Linked DNA regions of Homo sapiens: region 2 is linked to region 1. The links come from fine-mapping of genetic effects on gene expression. Tissue or cell type: whole blood. Region 1 holds a variant in brackets; the other region holds the start of a gene. All regions are shown on one strand. Distances are between the middles of the regions.

The links. PIP is the estimated chance that this variant, and not a neighbour inherited with it, causes the effect.
Region 2: it holds the start of PTPRA, and the variant in region 1 is fine-mapped to the expression of PTPRA in whole blood (TOPMed, PIP above 0.99).

The regions. Positions count from the first base shown.
Region 1 is chr20:3,030,871-3,033,624 of GRCh38, reverse strand. All of the region lies in intron 20 of PTPRA (protein tyrosine phosphatase receptor type A), which reads right to left. Among named protein-coding and RNA genes, the nearest start is that of GNRH2, 11 kb to the left of the region's middle. The variant G/A (reference allele first, on the strand shown) is at 1,132.
Region 2 is chr20:2,872,093-2,874,702 of GRCh38, reverse strand. PTPRA (protein tyrosine phosphatase receptor type A) reads right to left here and starts at 1,222. Exons shown (of 24, transcript NM_001385305.1): 1 at 943-1,222. RefSeq lists silencers at 749-1,028, 1,039-1,088, 1,269-1,338, 1,959-2,098 and enhancers at 583-1,212, 1,213-1,844, 1,845-2,474, 2,475-2,610.

The DNA.
Region 1 (2,754 bases):
TGGCCTCAAACAGGATTTGTAAGACAAGGAGTGACAATGATTTATATTTTCAAAAGGACCAGCAGCTGCCATTTGAAAAACTAAAAGTGGGTTAGGATGAGAGCAGGAGGACCAGTTGCCAGGCCACTGCAGACGAGGCTGCGCATATGAGTCATGCCCACAGTCCCACGGGCAAGCAGTGAGAGACGAGGGCTTGTTCAGATGACAGCAGTTACGCTGGAGAAAAGTGGGGAGGCTCTGCCTGTATCAGGACTCAGTGGCAGACTGGATGTGAGGGGTGAGGAGAGGGGAGGAAGGAAGGTAACTCCCGGATTTTAGACATGAGCAACTGGGCAGAAGGTGGTACTATTTATTTAGATGGCTAAGAGTGGGGTGGACTGGTGTCGGGGGAAGGAGGAAATCAGGAGCCCACATTGGGAAGGGGGACAGGTGACTGGCCTAGAGACGCAGATTGAGGATCCCTGGCATATGGGTTGTACTTAAAGCCATAGGACTGGCTGAGATCCTGAAGGGCTAGTGTGTCAAAAGAAAACAGAGTGGGCTAGCGCCCGAGTCTAGTATACTCCAATGTTTTAGAGGAGGAGGTCACAAAGAAATAACAAAGGAGCTGCCAGGTTAGTGAGTGGGGTGATGCTACGGAAGTAAGTGTTCTGAGGAAGAGGAGGGAGGTACTGACTCTTTCAAATGCTGCTGTAAGGACAAAAAAAAAAAAATCAGAAAAGAGAAATGACCTTTGGATTTGGCAAGAGGACAGTCACTGGTGATCTTGACTAAAGCAGTCCCAGTGGGGCCAAGCCTGGAAGGAACAGAGCGAACAGAGAACTTGCAGGGAGAAAGCCAACTCTTTTTTTTTTTTTTTTGAGATGGAGTCTCACTCTGCCACCAGGCTGGAATGCAGTGGCGCGATCTTGGCTCATTGCAACCTTCAGCTCCCTGGTTCAAACGATTCTCCTGCCTCAGCCTCCCGAGTAGCTGGGATCACAGGCATGCACCATCGCGCCCAGCTAATTTTTGTATTTTTAGTAGAGATGGGGTTTTGCCATGTTGGCCAGGCTGGTCTCGATCTCCTGACTTTGTGATCCGCCCACCTTGGCCTCCCAAAGTGCTGGGATTACAGGCGTGAGCCACCGC[G/A]CCCGGCCGAAAGCCAACTCTTTAAAGGAGTTTTGCTGGGAAGGGGTGCAGAGAAATAGGATAGTAGGTGGAAGGGAAAGTGAGATTAGCAGATTTTTTGTTTTTAAAAGATAGGAAATGTAACATGTATAGGCTGATGAGAGTAGTGGTTAAAGAGGGGAACTGCTGATGGAGGTGGGAGAGAAGATGGTTATAGCAGCAACATCCCTGAGCAGGCAGGACGGAATGGGGCCAAGAGCACAGTGGACAGGTGGATTGAGAGATGCAGAAACCCTTTTCCACTGTAACAAGAGAGAATAGAGTTGGTACAGATTTGAAGAGGCTGGTTGTTTGGGGGTGGGAGGATGACAGTGTTCTTGTCTGATTTCTTGGAGAAGAATGAGGCCAGGTCACAAGCTAAGGTGTGAGTATGATGGGACAGGCAAGAGCAGATGCTGGAGGTTTCAGGAAGAAAAGAAAGAGCAATAGCATTGCTAGGTGGCACCAATTACCTCTATGAGATTTGTGGTCATGAGTTCAGTGTGAGAGCATTTGGCACTGTTTTGTGTTTTTGCCCAGTGATGTTTGCTATATCAGATAGAGGCATATAACTGGGTTTTACTAGAGAGTTTGCTATGAAAGTAAGAAAGCATGAGGGAATAAGGAAAGGTAATAATGACATACCACAAAAACTCAAATCAGAAAACTCAAACGCTCAAAAACAGAACTCAAAAACACACAGAGTAAGGAGGAAGGTGAGGACATGTTCGGTGTGACTGATGTTGAGAAAGTGGAGGCATCAATAACTCTAAGGACTTGATGAAGACAAAAATGACTGGAATAAAAGAGAATACTGAGGTGGGAGGAAGGAGGCAGTAAACAGGGCGGATGCCTTGTTGAGATTCCAAGGGCAGTGCAGATACAGGGCAGATGGTGACTTGACCATGGGATCAGGTGGCTGAGGAAGCTGAGGAATAGAAAGATTGAGGATAGATGGATCATCCACATGGTGACTGATGCCTCCAAAAGCAGAGTCAGGAACAGGGGCTCAAAAGGAGCAGTAAGCCAGGTGTTAAAGTCATCAGTGGGTGAGGGACAGAAGATGGGGAATGGGGATTCAAGACCAGTAGAAGAAAAGCTGGGGACTGGAGTTTCATCTCAGATTTGTGTGTTCACGTTACGGCCTCTAGATAATAGCATCTTAAAGAAGTGAAACAGGGAAGGTTTTCTGTCTTTTCTCCTACTTTGTCTTTCCACCAGATAGCATGAAGTCTCTTATGTCTTATGTCTCTTATGAGGTCTAAGGCGGACATGGTGATGGGGACACACAGCTTTGTGAAGACTAATGCTATCAGGTTTCACTATGCTTTAGAGAAGCAGGATGAGGCCTAGGGTTGGGCTAGGCCTAGGGTTGACCCAGCATGGGAGTTCCTGGCACTGCTCTGTCTGCCCAGGCTGATGATGGTCCAAGCTGCAGCTGCTGAGGGAACCCAGGCATCCTGGTGGACCCTTTTGATTAAAATAGAGCAGAAGGAGGCCAGGCGCAATGGCTCATGCCTGTAATCTTAGCACTCTGGGAGGCTAAGGCGGGCGGATCACTTGGGGTCAGGAGTTTGAGACCAGCATGGCCAACATGACGAAACC
Region 2 (2,610 bases), 160 kb after region 1:
TGTTTCTGAAAGGAGTGGCCAGGCAGGAAGATGTTCGCCCTTTCCTAGTCAGTCCTCCTCTCGCCCACCATCTTCTGTTTCTCAGGCTGCCTGCACAGCTAGCAGGTGGCAAACGAAGCCATCTCCAGGGTGATGTGGACTGGTTCTAGAGCCGGAATCCCTCTCCTGAGCAAAGGCTTCTGATGGCGTTCACCCTGCAGAGGGTGGATTTGCACATTCTTCTTTTCCTGTCTTACAAATATCATCAGTGATCTCAAAAATAAAAACGAAACCCTCAAGACAGGACTCTGCTCTGCTATTTTTTTTTTTTAATCTTCAGGAGATATAATTAGTAACTAATTTTTTCAAAAAAAATTTTTTATTTACCGAAAGTAAAAAGGGAGGGGACCTGCGTTCTCAATTGGCCTATTCTGAATTCTGGGCAGCTCTCAGCCCTTATTTCCCTTCTTAAACAGCCTCAACAGTTGGGAGAGGGCGGCAAGGAGAGGGGCCTGGGAGACGGGCCGGGGGACCGAGGGAGGTGGACTTGAAGGGAAAGAAAAGTTGGTCACTGCAAAAGCAAATTTTCTCATGCCAAGAGTTTTCCTCTTTCCTCCCATTAAATGGACCTGAGCAAATTCTGTTCTCGCCGTTCTAAGTTTCTTCTCTGAGAATCAACTCTGGCAGTGCCCTGGCCTGGTCCCAGAAGGACGCATGCAAAGTTCCTGGGCAGTCGCGAGGGGTCGGCACTCGGGCCGGCACGTTTCCGGGGACCCCCTCCCCGCGACGGACCCGCAAGGATGCACAATCAACCTGCAGGCGCCCGCAGGCTTCTACCCGGAAAAGATGGCTTAGGGCTTCGGGCTCCGGGCTCTGGGCTGTGGCCCGGGACCCCTCCCACCGCCCCCGGGAGCCGCTCCCCCTTCCGGAGCCCACCCGGGCGCAGCGGCCGCGAACACTCACAGAGTCGGGCGTTGGGCGGGACCGCTGGGGACGAGGACAGCGGCTCCGCCTCGGCTCCGCGGCGGCGTTTCGGGCCGCCACTAGCCCTCAGGGCCGCCGCCCGGCCCGCGGCTCCGAGCCCCGCGGCGGCGGCGGCGGCCTCGCCTCCATGGCGAGGGGAAGCGGCTGAGGGGCGACTGGGCGGGCGACAGTGATGGCGGCAGCGGCCGGGGTCCGAGCGCGATCGCGCGCGCGCGCGTCTCTGTCAGCGCCGCACTCGCCGCAGCCTCGCTCCCGACCCGGCCTTGGCTGTAAGACGCGTGTTCATTGGCTGTTCAGAGACAGGCGCTGGTTGGCCGACAGCGAACGGGCGTCTCCGGCCCGCGCGGGCCCCGCCCTTGCGCTCCGCTGGGCGCTCACTTGCCGGCTGGGGCGCCGAACCCGGTCGCACGTTCTCCTGGTAGCTCCAGAGGGGTTCGCCCCGGGGCTGCCCAGTCCTTCGGGAAGCTGGACCCCGGAAGGACCGGCTGCGAGTGCACCAGTGCCTTCAGCCATTCTACAGTCACAGGCCTCATGACTTGGGCCTTCTTCCCAGTTTACAGATCAGGAAACCGAGGCCAGGCACAAACTACACCAATGTCTAGCCACCAGGGCGGCCTGCAACTCGAGAGCCATCTTCCTAACCCTCTCCAAACGTGATACTGTGGGTCTTTTTTTTCCCTCCCCTAATTGCTGCAAAGAACGACGGATCTCACTGGGGAGGGAGAGGAACCTGCCAAGTCCCTAGAACGGATCTGGCTCCGTGGGTGTCGTCTTATATCAAGTCAGCCCACGCCGTCCCCACCCGAGCTCCAGGGTAATCTCCCCCGCTTTCCAGATGCGCATGCTGGGGCCCCGCTCGCCACCGAGCTGAGTAGAAGCACAACACATGGTGCTCTGCGATGGAGGTGCCTTTTGCGATACGCCTGGCGGGGGAGGGGAGGCTCAAAACGCAGAGAGGAGCCAGAGTGCGCCCTCCCCCGGCCGGGGTTGGGGCGCGTACCCCCTTCCCGGCGCTCCCGGCACGGCGTCTGGTGCGTGACACCCGCGAAGCAATCGCTCAGTCCATCCAGCGGCAGCAGGTTCCTACACGGATCCCCGCGGGTGCTGCAGGACCTGAGCGTCTGCGGCTGAAAGCCGATTACGCAGTCGAGATAGGTGGTGGCAAATGCGACATTTCGCCGGGTTGTGATCCCCAGTAGGGACCCCTGGACATTCCGAGACCCGCGCAGGGCGAGCGGCTGGGCGTCTGCAGGCAAAAGACAGATTGCACAGTAGCGCACAAACCGAGCTTGCGGGTAGGGGACGCTTTATCCCAGACCCAGAGTCTGCGGTTCCCGGGGTAGGTGGCGGCGAGTCTCTCCTCCAGACCGGGCAACCCCTGAGTCCCCCTCACGCACCCCAGGCCGGAAGGAGTCCCACATTCGGGGCGCCCCCGGGGAAGGGTTGTGACCGGCGGCAACTCTTCATGGCAGGAAACACTGCGGCGCAAAAGGGGCTCCCAGCAGCCCCCACCATCTCCAGTCCTACCATCTCCGGTCCCCACCACCGCCTTCTGTTGGGGCGCCAGTTAGGGACTCTGTGCCCCACTCCTCCGTATTGTGGGCTCACATCAGCAGCCCCTACCATCTCCAGTCCTACCATCTCCGG